Linked DNA regions of Homo sapiens: region 1 is linked to region 2. A link means that fine-mapping ties the variant in region 2 to the expression of a gene that starts in the linked region. Tissue or cell type: uterus. Region 2 holds a variant in brackets; the other region holds the start of a gene. All regions are shown on one strand. Distances are between the middles of the regions.

The links. PIP is the estimated chance that this variant, and not a neighbour inherited with it, causes the effect.
Region 1: it holds the start of DHRS1, and the variant in region 2 is fine-mapped to the expression of DHRS1 in uterus (GTEx, PIP 0.98).

What each region holds. Positions count from the first base shown.
Region 1 is chr14:24,295,393-24,303,483 of GRCh38, forward strand. DHRS1 (dehydrogenase/reductase 1) reads right to left here and starts at 4,388. Exons shown (of 9, transcript NM_001136050.3): 1 at 4,189-4,388; 2 at 3,565-3,738; 3 at 1,346-1,489; 4 at 1,117-1,196. The coding sequence starts at 3,714. It overlaps NOP9 (NOP9 nucleolar protein), which reads left to right and starts at 4,458. Exons shown (of 10, transcript NM_174913.3): 1 at 4,458-4,809; 2 at 5,016-5,465; 3 at 6,220-6,330; 4 at 6,573-6,714; 5 at 6,840-7,032; 6 at 7,682-7,822. The coding sequence starts at 4,563. RefSeq lists an enhancer at 2,942-3,732.
Region 2 is chr14:24,004,062-24,012,163 of GRCh38, forward strand. It overlaps DHRS4L2 (dehydrogenase/reductase 4 like 2), which reads left to right. Exons shown (of 8, transcript NM_198083.4): 7 at 276-331; 8 at 1,825-2,342. The coding sequence ends at 309. It also overlaps the pseudogene DHRS4L1. Among named protein-coding and RNA genes, the nearest start is that of DHRS4L2, 19 kb to the left of the region's middle. The variant C/G (reference allele first, on the strand shown) is at 3,731.

The sequences.
Region 1 (8,091 bases), 290 kb after region 2:
AATGAAAACAAGTAGAGTTATAGTTTTAAAGGAAAGTGCAGCCCAAGGTAATACAGAGGAAAGGCAGTAAATGCGCATGGGGAATGGGTGGGCAGGAGGTGCTGGGGGGCTGTCAGGGGCTCATCAAGGGGCCTTTACCTTGGATAATTCATCAGGGCCCAAGGTCGAGGGTCTGGGCCTCTGCCTTGAATCTCTGCTTCAGGGTCAAAACCCTGGCCAGCAAGAGATGAGGGTGTGGAAGGCACCTCTCTTTGGAGGCTATGGTCATGAACACTGGCCAATTTCCAGCTCTTAACGTGTCCCTTTCTTGCCTTTGGCCTCACCATCCTCCTCTGTCCTAATGATCTTCCTTCCACTTTGGAAATCACAATTGCATTCTAATCCTGCTTCCTTGGGATTGTTACCAGAGTACCAAAATTGGAGCGGTGGGTGTTCTTACATGCTTTAGTCACAGATTTGCCGATAATCTCGTGGTTACTCCCACAGGTGACTGATCACATCCATCAGGCATGACTTGATTATATGAGAGTGTAACATCATTCCAACAGTAACAGAGGCATAACTGGTGTGCATTATGCTAGGCGAATTCTAAATGCTGTGTTTCATCTCACTCCTGGGCTAAATGACCCTGTGTGACCCAGTGATGTACCTGCTCTCCCAACTCTGACCCGGCAGTGCCCTTGCCTGTGGGTGTGGAGTGAGGATGTGGAGACTAAACAGCATTGGTGTTCGCTCCTTCTTCTTAAGCTTCTCCCAGTCTAAAATAAAACAATTTCTCCCTCTAACCATTTTGAAAGTATAGACTACAGGCTGTGCGCATTACTGAGAGGAGGAGGCTTCCTCCCTTCTGGGTCTTGCATTTGGATGGGCAGAGAGTGAGACAGGAGAGAGGCCAAGGGCTTGTTCCAATGAAAATTACTGACAGAGTTGACATTCTCAGGTACAGACTCACCTGGATGGAACTTCTCCAGAGGTAAGTGGGACAAATGGAATGGAAGGGAGAAGAAAGAGATGGGGGAGGCCGGAGGGAAAAGGAGAGGGCATGTAAGGAAAGGCCTGGCCGTCGAGTTGGCTAAGTGAGTGAGGGAACATGGGTCCTGGCAGTGGAGCACCCACCTGAGTCCGACGTTGTTGATATCATCCCACATGGAGGCAGGGGTTTCCCAGAATGCCTTATTCCTGGTGTTCAGGATCGTCTGGAAGGCACAGGGAGGGTGATGAATGATCTGAAGGTAGGGAGGTGTGAGGGGCTGGGTAATGGAAGGGACAATGAGTGGGGATGAAGATGCAGGGGTCTGAGGGGGAGGTCAGAAATGTGGAGTTGGGAACAAAGTTCAAAGGGTACCTGGACCCCTGCATAAGCATTGTTGACCAGCACATCTAGACGCCCTTGCTGTTCCCGATCCACTTGCTCAAACAGGCTTCGCACTTCACTCTCCTGGCTTGAATCGCACACCACAGGCACACATTGGCCCCCGAGGGATTGTGCCTGGAGTAGGACAGGGGATATGAGCTCACATTCACACATGGGTGTGAGTCATGACAAAACTCCCCAACCAAAGTGGGCTTGAGAACTGAGAAGACAATCAATCCTAGGAGAGCCTGCTGCAGAGGCAACATGGCAGGCAACGCTGCCCTCTGGTGTCTGTTTGAGTAGTTTCAGGAATGATAGGCCTCCCCACCACAGAGCAAGGTGAATTGCAATGTAAGTTTTAATAATCTACAAACATTTACTGAGGCCCACCATGTGCACAGCATTGTACTTTGCAAGTAGAGGGTAAGAACAAGTGAGGCATGGAGTCTGCTCTTGAGAAATGAGTAAGCATCCTTTTCCTTGTTGTGGTCATTTCCATCTCTCATGCCCTTAGCTCCCACCCTACACTACTCACCTAAAACCTCTACTCAGTCCCAGTTGTCTTACCCTCACTCCACCAATGCTCCTGGTTGGTAATTGAAAAAACCAAAGCTATCAGCCATGAATGATTTCTACTTCCTGTTCTGTCTCACTCTCTACAAATGCCCACAAACCTCCAACTTCAGAGGAAGAAGAGTCCTTTATCTAAGAACAATCCTCCTATTCTCCAAATTTATGCTCTGGGTCCCCGCCTATTACCCTCCTTGCCTGAACTACTGCAATGCCTCCCAACGACTCACCTGACCTCCAGTCTGTCTGCCTTAAATTAATTCTTCATAATCCAGCCAGTACGACCTATCTAAAACACAAACCCTGTTCAAAATCTCCTAACTGGATCTCCATCTCTTAGAGGATGAAGCCTGAGTTCTCTATTAGGGTCTTCCAAGACCCACTCTTTCCTCTCCAGCCTCTCACTCACTACTCTTCCCTTGCATTATCTCACACATCTACTCTTTCACACAGCGTCCCTATGCTTATGGAGCTCCCTCTGCTGGAATGCTTTTCCTAACTTCCTTTACCTAATTCTTACCTTTCAAAACTCAGTTCAAGAACCACCTACCTCCTCCAGGACGCTTTCCCAAACCACTTTCCCTAGCCACTCTCCTATGTCATCTGGATGCTCCCCAACACCCCTAGAGTATTCTGTGCATATCTCCCTCTTATAATTTACCATATTCACATTACATTGAAGTGACTGCTTTCTGTACCTGACTTCCTGTTGGAATCTATCTTCATTTTTAATTAAAATTTTTTTTTTTAGAGACAGGGTCTCACTGTCACCAGGCTGGAGTGCAGTGGTGCAATCATAGCTCACTGCAACCTCGAACTCCTGGGCTCAAACGATCCTCCTGCCTCAGCCTCCCAAGTAGATGGTACTACAGGTGCAGGCCACTGTGCCTAGCTAATTATTTAAAAAATATTTTTTGTAGAGACTGGGTCTAGCTATGTTGCCCAGACTGGTCTCCAACTGCTGGCCTCAAGTGATCTTGCTGCCTTGGCCACCCAAAGTGCTGGGACTACAGGCATGAGCCACTGTACTCCACCATGGACTGAATCTTTGAAGAGCAGAAATTAGATTTTATTAGTCTTGGTAACTTCAGTGGTTTACCAATGCCTAGCAAATCATGGATACTCAAATATTTATTTAACTGAAGTCTAGTAAATAAGTAAAAAATGTGCAGTTCAATAAAGTCTTGCCTGAAATAGAGGAAAGCACAGGTCCACAACCCTTTAGTTGCAATTCCAAAATCTCTGCTCTCAAACAAAAAGTTTTTTACTTTTCTTTCTTTTCTTTTTTTTAATACAGTGTCTCGCTGTGTCGTCTAGACTGGAGTGCAGTGGTGTGATCATGGCTCAACTCCTAGGCTCAAGCGATCCTCCTGCCTCAGCCTCCGGAGTAGCTGCTGGGACTGCAGGAACGTGCCACCATGCCTGGCTCAAACACAAAGTTTTTTCATAAAACTCACTTGGCGGCAAAATTCTACCTTACCTGAAGTTATTTACGGGGTTTTTAATTTCCACTTTGAATAAATATTCACATCTTGTTGAGTAGTATTATAGTTTCAGGTAAGGGATTAGGAAAGGAGCTGTTAAGTGGAAGGGCTCTCTCGGGTGGTTTCTGCAACTGTGGTCCCAGAGGAAGCACTCACCTCCTGAGCAACAACGCGAAGGGTGTCCAGATGGCGGCCAGTGATGTAAACTGTGGCGCCTGCTTTGCAGAGCTGCAAGGCAATGCCACGGCCAATACCCCTGGAGGCACCAGTCACCACACACACTTGGCCATTCATGGGAGCTGCCATGACTCACAGGCAAAGGAGGCAGGTCTGTGGAAGCAAAGACTTACTCTGAGGGAAGCCTGGAGACTGTGTGTGTGTTGGGGCGAGGTTGGGGGGTAGGGGAGAACCTCACTAGGGCTAAGAGGAGGAGCCAAGGTAAGAATCCTTTGAGGGGAGAGGAGTCAGAGGCTGACAACTGGGTGCGGGCCTGAGGACAAGGCTGACTGTCTTTTGGGAGGCCCAGAGAGTGAAGAAGGGGCTGAGTGGGACTGTCCAGAGGTGGACAACTACTACAACCCTCTGAGTGTGGCTGCCTGGATATGGGAATCTGGCGCGGCAGCCCCTCGGGGCGCGTCCACGCAGAGTCCTGGGCTATCTGAAGCTCCGGTCCCTGGCCTGACCCAGTCCGGCTGAGCCAGAGGCGCAGCTTCCGGGCCGGGGATGAGCGCGAAGCCTGGAGATCCTAAGCCCTAAGTGGGACGAGCGTGCGCCGCTTACCTGCCACCTGCGCTGCCGCTGAGGTCTGCAGATTGCGGGGCTGCGGTGGAAGTCTGGGTTCTCGCCCAGATTGAGCCGGCGACGTGGAGGCAGTGTTCAAGGATTGATTCTGTAGTAGGACCCGGGGCGATTCTGTGCTGAGGTAGAGGGGCAGAGTCCCAGGCCAAAGTTAGAACCTGCGGATGGGGGCGGAGCGATCTGGGTGACACACCCACCCCGCCCGGCTGGGGCGGCGCGGAACTATGACGTAGTAGCTGCGTCAGGAGCGCGCCCGCGTTTCTAAACTTTGTCTGGATAAGGCGCACGCTTGGCGACGTCGAAGGTCCGTCCGCAGTTAAGGAAGCTTTTGCAGCCGGACAGGTCGCGAAGCACACATGGGGCAGGGTCCGCGCTCTCCACACAAGGTGGGGCGCCGGTTCCCAGCTGGTGGCAAACGGGGGCGCGGGGCCAAGGGGTCGGGGCGCCCCTTACCAGGCCGTAAGCGGCAACCCTGGCCGCCTCCGGATGGGCGCTCGGAGCCGGCTCCAGATTCGCACCCGCACCTGAGCCCGGAAGCTCTGGGATATTTCCGCCGGGCGCTGTCAGCATTGAAAGAGGCTCCCGAGACTGGGGAAGAACGAGGTAGGCAGCAACTTCGGGGTTTAGACCAAGAGCATCAAATCCAGGGCAGGCAAGGAAACTTTCTAGGGTCGGCAGGGCGTGGGGACTTAGTTTCATTTCCCATGTCCTCTTCCTCGGCCTCCGACCCACGACCCTTGGTTAAGCGAGGGTACATAACTGTATTCTCTACTAAGTCTCTTCAAAGTGTGTCTTTCTTCCCTTTTCAGATCTGATGGTGCACAATATAATGAAGGAAGTAGAGACTCAGGCCCTAGCTTTGTCCACGAACAGGACTGGCAGTGAGATGCTGCAGGAACTGTTGGGATTCAGTCCCTTGAAACCGCTTTGTCGCGTGTGGGCTGCTCTGCGCTCTAACTTGCGCACTGTGGCCTGTCACCGATGCGGGGTCCATGTATTACAAAGTGCTTTGCTACAGCTCCCTCGATTGCTGGGGAGTGCTGCAGAGGAGGAGGAGGAGGAGGAGGAGGATGGAAAGGATGGTCCCACGGAGACCCTGGAGGAGCTGGTCCTGGGACTAGCCGCTGAGGTGTGTGATGATTTTCTTGTCTACTGTGGAGACACACATGGCAGCTTCGTGGTCAGAACTCTGCTTCAGGTGTTAGGAGGGACTATTCTGGAGTCTGAGAGAGCCAGGCCCCGTGGTTCCCAATCATCTGGTAAGTATTACAAGAGGAAAGTGGACCTAGGGGGAAGAAGAATTTAGAAAGTTCAGAATGAGACAGTAAACAGAAGAGTAAGTCTTCATGGGGGAGCTTGACCGGGAAGAATTAGCTTGACCTGTCCTAATCTGAACAGGGCTTAGCAAGCCAAAGATTAGTGTGTGCGGAGGCCCAGAGGTAGGGATGTACAGTTGTGTTTGGGGAAGGCTATTAGAATGGACGCAGGAGGAGAATTTTTTTTAAGCATGACTTAATATACAAATGGACTTAAGCAAAAGTAACATACACACTGGACTCAAGCAAAAGTTCAGGAAACTATACCCTTACTACATGCAGCCCACTCTGTTATTTTTTTTTCCTTTTCAAAACTATTCTGCTCTATTTCATTTAAAAAAAATGCTAGTTGAGACCACTAACTTGATTTCATGGTACAGTCTTGAGCTGTGATCCACATTTTGAAAAACTAGGAAATAAAGTTAGCGAGTTTAAATGAGGCTTTATTTTGGAATGGCTTGAATACCTGGCTGAGGAGGTTGAACTGTCTTCTGTGGACCATGGGGAAGCTGGTTGAAGTTTCTTAGAAAAATTAAGACAGAAATGTAGTCTCAGTTCAGTCATCCAGAAGAGACATTTAGTTGTACTACATCTGTTCTGCATCTCCAAGCGGAATCCTTGTTCATCTGTGAAATTTTTCTCTCCTGGATGGCAGTTTGTGATCTCCCCACTGCACATGTTCTTAATCTTCCTTCAGAAGCACAGAAGACCCCAGCTCAGGAATGTAAGCCAGCTGATTTTGAAGTCCCTGAAACCTTTTTGAATCGCCTTCAGGACCTGAGCTCCTCCTTTCTGAAGGACATTGCAGGTAAGGAGGGAAGTAGGAGGATGGTCTCGTATCTACTTGTCTGGAGGTCATCTTACCACCAAGCAAGGCCCTTACCTCAGGTTATTCCTCTTCTTTTCAAACCTGGTCTGGTTTGACGTTCAGAGCACTTTGTATAGTCCCTTTGTGTCCATAGTGCCCTGTATCTTGTTGCCTAAAGTTTGAGGTTACGCAGGTTGTCTGGATTTTGGGAAAGCCGCTTTATTTCTGCCCTCTCTCCACAGTGTTTATCACTGATAAGATCTCCAGCTTCTGTCTTCAAGTGGCTTTACAGGTTTTACACCGCAAACTTCCCCAGTTTTGCGCTCATCTCTGCAATGCTGTGATTGGCTACCTGAGTACTCGCGGTTCCTCAGTAGATGGCAGGTATGGTCAGGGCCTCAGGATCGACCCAAGTTGGCGGGGCTGTGTGAAATGAATGAGGTGATGTAGTGCAACTGTATTTTGCATGAAATGGAGTTAAGACTGCCTGATGCCCTTCTTGTCCCTAGTCCCCTACTGCTATTTCTCCGAGATCAGACGAGTTCCAGACTCCTGGAGCAGGTCCTGCTGGTGTTGGAGCCCCCAAGACTCCAGAGCCTCTTTGAGGAGCACTTGCAGGGGCAGCTGCAGACCCTGGCTGCACATCCCATTGCCAACTTCCCTTTGCAGCGCTTACTGGATGCAGTCACTACCCCTGAGCTGGTGAGTTGGAAACCTGAGCTGGATCTGTTTCTGCTAATTCTTGATCACTGGACCTTATTTTATGGTCTGTCTGCCTCTATATACCTTTGACATTGTGCTGGCCATTGCCCTTGAAAAGCTATTCTTTGAGGTTTTCCAGAGCTTAGGATAAAGGTGCCCACCTTCTAGTGAGGATTTGTTTTGACTTCTCTCAGGTATGAGGACCAGCAAGAAACTGGCTTTATTCAGGTTTACAGCTTGAGGTTCCATGGCCCACCCAGACTCTGGTACTTGGCTATAAGCCCACATGAGTGCTAGAGCTGTTGCCATAGCTTCTCTTTTCCTTTGCTGCTTAGGACTAAGGTGGGCTTCCCTGTGGTCTCATGCATTGGGTGTTAGAGTGGAAGTGCAGTTTAATTTTAGTCTCCCCTTGCTCCTAGTGCTCCCTTACACATAGGGAAGAGCCACTTAAAGTTCCTTCCTGTGAGGTGGCACCTCTAAGACTGCCCCCTTATCCTGGGCCTTATCTAGCCAAACAAAAGTCCTGATACTGGCAATGCTTTTTATGTTTTATCTAGCATTTTTAGTTGTTTTCGTTGGGAAGATTTCTCTGAATAATGTGGTCCGCCATTACCAGAATGCCAGAGTTACATTCCATGTTTCCCATCAGCTGTCCCCTGTGTTTGAGGAGCTGAGCCCTGTCTTGGAAGCTGTATTGGCCCAGGGCCACCCAGGGGTAGTCATTGCCCTGGTGGGGGCCTGTCGCAGAGTTGGGGCCTACCAAGCCAAGGTCCTACAGCTCTTGTTGGAGGTGAGTGGATATTACCCACAATCTGTTTATGCCCTCAGTTCAACTTCTACCTTTTAGGACTTATCTAATCTTAAGTTTTTGTACCTCTGGACTCAGGAAGTCTAATGCCCAAGGAGTTCACAGGAATGGGGGAAAATGAGGCCTATAGGTGCCCGCCACCATACCCAGCTAATTTTTTTTTTTTTTTTTGAGACGGAGTTTTGCTCTTGTTGCCCAGGCTGGAGTGCAGTGGCGCAATCTCAGCTCACCGTGCCCGGCTGAGGCCAAAT
Region 2 (8,102 bases):
AGGTCGAGACCATCTTGGCTAACACGGTGAAACCCCGTCTCTACTAAAAATACAAAAAATTAGCCGGGCGCAGTGGCGGGCGCCTGTAATCCCAGCTACTCGGGAGGCTGAGGCAGGAGAATGGCATAACCCGGGAGGCGGAGTTTGCAGTGAGCCAAGATAGCGCCACTACAGTCCGGCCTGGGCAAAAGAGCAAGACTCCGTCTCTAAAAAAAAAAAAAAAAAAAGAAAGGAAAAGAAAAAAAAACATAAAGAGATTTCCCTTCTTCCTACAGCTCTGGATGGACAAGGAAAAAGAGGAAAGCATGAAAGAAACCCTGCGGATAAGAAGGTAAACTGTCATGAGGGCAAGGGCACTAAGAGACATGAAGATGGGAAGGTCTGGTCCCTAGCAGCCCACAGCCCGCTGTCTCAGTCCCACAGATAACACAGGCAGGCTCTCTTCTGCCTCACAGACCACGAATTCATAAACACTATCACTACAGTGACCTGAGCAAGAAGTCAGCTTCCCTTTCCAAAGGTAAACACAGAGACATCGGGGTTTCAGCAGTGCAGAGGTCTCGGAGAAGCCCTGAGTCCTCTCTCCACCTGGGGGATTGCCTCCACCTCTGAGCATCCATGGAGACCAGGGACCATAACCAAAACCATGCTTTGTTAGTCCCCTTGAATAATGACACATGTTTACAAAACTCAGGTTGATGATCTACAATCCAAATGAAAAGAATGAAGAGTTTTACTAAGCCCCAAACTCCCCTTGCCTAAGGAGTTACTTTCTTCCCCAGTGAGCTGGGTGAACTGTTCAAGCACCTTTGTCGGGCTCCCTTTCCTCTAAGTTCCCTGCCTCTCTCTACCTTCTGGCTTCAAGGACAAATGCCAGTAATGCCTAACTCTGTACTCGTCCAGACATCCCAAATCTTCCCAAAGCCATTCTGATGTGAGACATGAGCTGCAGGCCTGGTTCATAACTCATTAATAAGTGAGGGGATTGTCAACCTAGAGCACCAATGAATGATCTAGCCCATGTAGCTCAATACTGGATTCACATTAGAATCACCTGGGGAGCTTTTTAAACTGCAGGTGCTCAGGCCCCACCCACTCCCAGAGATTCTTTTTAATTGGTCCAAGGTAGGACTTGACCATCTGGGCTTTTGTTTTTCTTTGTCTTTTCTTTTCTTTTCTTTTTTGGTTTAAGCCTCTCAAATGATTGCAAGATACAAGTAGAATGGAGAAGCATTAATTCAGCCCTTCTAGGTTTGAGTTACTCACTCTGCCCACCTCTAGAGCATTCTATGGCAGGGAGATTAAAGTGTCTCCTAACTATGCAGTCACTGATAAAATAAGAATTAGCACATTCTCACTAAATGAACATGACTTTAAGGCACAAGTATAGATTCCTGAAAAAGTTCTAAGCTGAACCTGTACAAATGGAATCATTTTAAACACACCATTTACTGTCACACAGACTCCCTGATACTTTAGTGTGTGCACATGTGAAACCATTTTTTTGAAGTATGAAATAATTAATTGCTCACCATTTTATCTATATAACTTTGGATTTTGGTGTCCTGAGCTCTCTAAAAACCGGTGTGTTTCTATAGTATTTGAATATTATGGGTAATAGTTTTGCAGAGTACAGTATGCTTATACTAAATTATAACAGCATATCCTCGTGGTAACCCTATTTGATAGGCAGAAAGCTTGTACACTGATCCTGAAAAGTCATCTGATAATTCTTGATTAAGCAAATTTAACTCCCCGTGTCCCAGGTGAGGGAGGCAGACCCGTTTGATTTTTACCTCCTTCCTTGCTTCCCTTATTCCCCAGGTTAGGCGAGCCAGAGGATTGTGCTGGCATCGTGTCTTTCCTGTGCTCTGAAGATGCCAGCTACATCACTGGGGAAACAGTGGTGGTGGGTGGAGGAACCCCGTCCCGCCTCTGAGGACCGGGAGACAGCCCACAGGCCAGAGTTGGGCTCTAGCTCCTGGTGCTGTTCCTGCATTCACCCACTGGCCTTTCCCACCTCTGCTCACCTTACTGTTCACCTCATCAAATCAGTTCTGCCCTGTGAAAAGATCCAGCCTTCCCTGCCGTCAAGGTGGCGTCTTACTCGGGATTCCTGCTGTTGTTGTGGCCTTGGGTAAAGGCCTCCCCTGAGAACACAGGACAGGCCTGCTGACAAGGCTGAGTCTACCTTGGCAAAGACCAAGATATTTTTTCCTGGGCCACTGGGGAATCTGAGGGGTGATGGGAGAGAAGGAACCTGGAGTGGAAGGAGCAGAGTTGCAAATTAACAACTTGCAAATGAGGTGCAAATAAAATGCAGATGATTGCGCGGCTTTGAATCCAATTGACCTGTTCATTTCTCAGTGTTGGGTGCTTAGCTGAGCAGAGAGCAGAAGTCTATTCAGGCTGGATCTCTGGATCCCCCAGCCCTCCTCCCTGTCTCCAGAACTTGAGCGTGATGTTCACGGGTGGAGGTGTCTGCAGAGCTGCCAGCTGGAAGGAAGGTGGCACGGGAACTCCCAGGACGCCACGGGAATCCCCGAGGCAGCGCGAGCCCGGAGAGAGTGGGGAAGGATGAACTCTCTAACACCTCCCCGCCCCTTGCCTCCCAGATCAGGCCAGGTCCTCTCCCCGCATGGCCCTACGTCCCGAGTTCCCTCCCGAGTCAGCAAGTACAAGCTGGATGGGTCCTGAGCCGGTGGGGAATAGAGAAAGGCCCTGCAAGGTACCCAGGCCCACAAACAAAAGAAATGGGTTCTGCCCACGGGCCCGAGGATTCAGTAGAAGGAAAGTGGGGACGCTGTCCCCCGCCCCAAAGGCACTGACACTGGGCGACACACGCTGAGCCTCTCACACCGACGGGCCTCTCACGCCGGAGCCGGCAAGAAAGGTCGGCGCCAGCCCGCGGGCTCTCAGGAGGCTCGGCAGCGCGACGCGCATGCTCAGTCGGGCAGCTCTCCGGGCCGGCGTGGGAGCCCGCGCTCCAAAGCCCGGTGGGGGGAGGGGCGCTCACGCAACCGCCACTGTCTGGAGCGGGCTCGCCTCTGCGGCGGCACTCACCGCCCGGGCTTTACTGAAGCGGAGTCTAGCATGTGCGGCTGCTCCACAGCGGTGTGGGTGGCGGCGGCTCCTCTGCAGCAGCCTCGGCAGTAGGGGTCACGGTGGCCAAGCCCACCGTGGAGCTCATCTGAGAGTTGTAAGGTACGGGACTGCCTCGGTCTTTGGGACGCCCCGTCTGGTAGCATCCCAGATCCAGCACGTTCCTTCCGGCCCTGCACCCCGGCCCGGTGCCTCACACCCCGCTACCCCATGCATCCAGACTCTAAGGCAGCCCCTGCATCTCAGTCCTGACATCGCTGTCCCTGGAGCATCCTCCGCTGGAGCTGGAGCTTGACAGGTAGGGTGGAGAGGGCCGTGGGGGGGGTGCGGAAACTGCATCAATTAACGGGGCCGTGGGGGAGGGAAGTCCTCCATTGCTAAGGCTTCAGTAGGCGTTCTATGATCACAGTGTAAACAAAGCTGCAGGGAAGCTCTAACTGGGCGGAACCCACCGCAGCTCAGCAAGGCCTACTGCCTCTCCAGATTCCACCTCAGGGGCCAGGGCATATCTGAGCAAAAGGCAGCAGACAGCTTCTGCAGACTTCAGTGTCCTTGCCTGACATCTCTAAAGACAGCAGTGGTTCTCCCAGCACGGAGTTCGTGCTCCGATAACGGACAGACTGCCTCC[C/G]CAAGTGGGTCCCTGACCCCCATGTAGCTTGACTGAAAAACACCGCCCAGTAGGGGCAGAGAGACACCTCATACAGGTGGGTGCCCCTGTGGAACAAAGCTTCCAGAAGAAGGATCAGGCAGCAATATTTGCTGTTCTGCAGCCTCCTCTACTGATACCCAAGAAAATAAGGTCTGGAATGGACTTCCAGCAAACCCCCAAAGACCTGCAGCTGAGGGGCCTGTTAGAAGGAAAACTAACAAACAGAAAGGAATAGCATCAACATCAGCAAAGGACAGCATCAACATCAGAACAGGAAAGGACATCCACACTAAAACCCCATCCATAGGTCACCAACATCAAAGACCAAAGGTAGATAAAACCACAAAGATGGAGAGAAACCAGAGCAAAAAGGCTGAAACTTCCAGAAATCAGAACGTCTCTTCTCTTCCAAAGGAATACAAGTCCTCACCAGCAAGGGAACAAAACTGGATGGAGAATAAGTTTGATGACTTGACAGACGTAAGCTTCAGAAGGTCAGTAATAACAAACTACACCCAGCTAAAGGAGCATGTTCTAACCCATTGCAAGGAAGCTAAAAACCTTGACAAAATGTTAAACGAATGGCTAACTAGAATGAAGAATCTAGAGAAGAGCTTAAATGACCTGATGGAGCTGATAACCACAGTACAAGAACTTCATGAAGGATACACAAGCTTCAATAGCTGATTCAATCAAGTGGAAGAAAGGATATCAGTGATTGAATATAAAATTAATGAAATAAAGTGAGAACACAAGATTAGAGACAAGAAAAGAAAAAAGAAACATTCAAATTCAGGAAATACAGAGAACATCACAAAGACACTCCTTGAGAAGAGCAACCCCAAGACACATAATTGTCAGATTCAGCAAGGTTAAGGGCAGCCAGAGAGAAAGGTTGGGTTACCAACAAAGGGAAGCCCATCAGACTAACAGCAGATCTCTCAGCAGAAACCATACAAACCAGAAGAGAGTCGGGACCAATATTCAACATTCTGAAAGAAAAGATTTTTGGAACTAGAATTTCATATCCAGCCAAACTAAGCTTCGTAAGTGAAGGAGAAATAAAATCCTTTACAGACAAGCAGATGCTGAGAGAGTTTGTCACCACCAGGCCTGCCTTACAATAAGAGCTCCTGAAGGAAGCACTAAACATGGAAAGGAACAACCAGTACCAGCCACTGCAAAAACATACGAAATTGTAAAGACCATTGATGCTATGAAGAAACTGCATCAATTAATGGGCAAAATAACCAGCTAACGTCATGACAGGATCAAATTCACATATAACAATACTAACCTTCAATGTAAATGGGATAAATGCCCCAATTAAAAGACACTGACTGGCAAATTGGATAAAGAATCAAGACCCATATGGTGTGCTGTATTCAGGAGACCCAATCTCACGTGCAAAGACACACATAGGCTCAAAATGAAGGTGTGTCTGGAATTGGTGGGTTCTTGGTCTCACTGACTTCAAGAATGAAGCCACGGACCCTCGCAGTGAGTGTTACAGTCCTTAAAGGCAGCGTGTCCGGAGTTTGTTCCTTCTGATGTTCAGACACGTTCAGAGTTTTTTCCTTCTGGTGGGTTCGTGGTCTCGCTGGCTTCAGGAGTGAAGCTGCGGACCTTCACAGTGAGTGTTACAGCTCTTAAGGCGGCATGTCTGGAGTTGTTCGTTCCTCCCATCCGGAGTTGTTCATTCCTCCCACTGGGTTCGTGGCCTCACTGGCCTCAGGAGTGAAGCTGCAGACCTTCACGATGAGTGTTACAGCTCATAAAGGCCGTGTGGACCCAAAGAGTGAGGGGCAGCAAGATTTATTGCAAAGAGCGAAAGAACAAAGCTTCCACAGTGTGGAAGGGGACCCAAGCAGGTTGCTACTGTTTGAAGGGGTGGCTTGCCCCTCCACACCTGTGGGTATTTCTAGTCAGGTGGGACGAGAGACTGAGAAAGAGAAATAAGACACAGAGACAAAGTATAGAGAAACAACAGTGAGCCCAGGGGACCGGCGCTCAGCATACCAAGGACTTGCACCGGCACCGGTCTCTGAGTTCCCTCAGTTTTTATTGATTATTATCGTCATTATTTCAGTAAAAAGGAATGTAGTAGGAGGGCAGGGTGATAATAAGGAGAAGGTCAGCAACAAACGTGAGCAATAGAATCTAATAATTCAGTTCAAGGGAAGGTACTATGACTGGACATGCACGTAAGCCAGATTTATGTTTCTCTCCACCCAAACATCTCGGTGGAGTAAAGAATAACGAGGCAGCATTGCTGCAAACATGTCTCGCCTCCCACCATAGGGCGGTTTTTCTCTCATCTCAGAACTGAACAAATGTACAATCGGGATTTATACCGAGACTTTTAGTTCCCAGGAGCAGGCAGGAGACAGTGGCCTTCCTCTATCTCAACTGCAAGAGGCCTTCCTTTTTTACTAACCCACCGCAGCACAGACCCTTTATGGGTGTCGGGCTGGGGGACAGTCAGGTCTTTCTCATCCCAGGAGGCCATATTTCAGACTATCACATGGGGAGAAACCTTGGACAATACCCTGCTTTCAAGGGCAGAGGTCCCTGCGGCTTTCTGCAGTGCACTGTGCCCCTGGTTTATTGAGACTAGAGAATGGCGATGACTTTTACCAAGTATACTGCTTGTAAACATTTTGTTAACAAGGCACGTCCTACACAGTCCTAGATCCCTTAAACCTTGATTTCATACAACACATGTTCTTGTGAGCTCCAGGTTGGGTCAAAGTGGTTGGGTCAAAGTGGCTGGGGCAAAGCTAAAAATTAACAACATCTCAGAAAAGCAATTATTTAAAGTACAGGTCTTTTTCAAAATGTAGTCTCTTATGTCTTCCCTTTCTACATAGACACGGTAACAGTCTGATCTCTCTTTCTTTTCCCTACATATCCCCCTTTTCTTTTTGACAAAACTGTCATTGTCACCATGGCCTGTTTTTGCTGGTCACTGTCTTTCTGGAACTGCTGGATACACCTGTAGACTAACAATAGAGAGGGCAGACATACAAGGATTAATACAAAATTTGCAATAGTGGAATTTCCAATGGTTTTAACCCAAGTGATGGGGGCAAGAGGACAGTGTGGGTGCTCCGGCACCCAGGCAGTCTCCCTTCTCCTTTGTCTCTTAGTTGTTGTTTCTCATAGTTTTCAATCTTTCTCCTCACCTGCTCACTCGCACTTTTTGTTTCATTGTCTCCCTTCTCTTATGGTCTCTCTCTCTTTTTCTCTTTTTCTTCCTTTTACACTATTTCTTTTCCCAGTCTCACTTTCTGTGTCTCTCTCTGATCTCTGTCTTTCTCTTTTACATTATTTTTTTCCCCAGTCTCACCTTCTGTGTCTTTCTCTGATCTCTGTCTTTTCCAGTCTCTCTCTTACTCATTTTCTCCCTCTCTTTCTCTCTCTCTCTCTCTCTCTCTGTCTGTCATCCCGTGTCCTCTCTCCTTCACACTCAGTCTCTTTTTCTTTTTCTTTTTCTCCCTGGCTCTCCACATCTGCCGTTTTCTCTCCTTTCTCTTTCTGATTTCTCTTCTCACTTTCTCTCTTCCTTTCTTTCCCAGTTTCTCTTTTTTCTCTGTTGGTCTTTCCCAAATAATGAAAAGGAGTGGAGGTCTGAATGTTATCAGATGCTATTGTCAGGCCTGCGTTTGCAACCTCTGTCTGCAGAAATGTGTAACAGTCAATTAATTTGTCTCTCGTTTCTGCAGCACTCAAAATATCATCAACATAATGAATAATATAACAGTCTGAAAACTTGTCTCTAACTGGTTGAAGAACTTGAGCTACAAAAGTCTGACAAATAGTTGGACTATTAAGCATTCCCTGAGGCAACACTTTCCGCTGAAATCTGGTGGCTGGTTTTTTATTATTTATGGCTGGTATAGTAAAAGCAAATTTTTTTAAATCCTATTTTGCCAGAGGAATGGTAAAAACGCAATCCTTTAGCTCAATTATAATTAAAGGCCAATCTTTGGGGATCATGGCCGGAGAAAGCAGCCCAAGTTGGAGAGTCCCCATGGGTTGAATTACTGCATTGATGGCTCTCAAATCAGTTAGGATGCACCATCTGCCTGATTTTTTCTGAATTACAAACGCAGGAGAATGCCAAGGTGAAAATGAAGGCTCAATGTTTCCCTTTTCTAATTGTTCCTTTGCCACTAAGTGTAAGGCCTCCAGTTTTTGCTTTGGTAGTGGCCACTGATTTACCCATACAGGCTTTTCTGTTTTCCCAGTTAATGGAATGGGTTTTGGAGGCTCTACAGTGGCCACTCCTAAAAAGGATACCCTATTTCTTTTTTTTTTTTTTTTTTGGATTTTTTTAGCCTCAATTGGG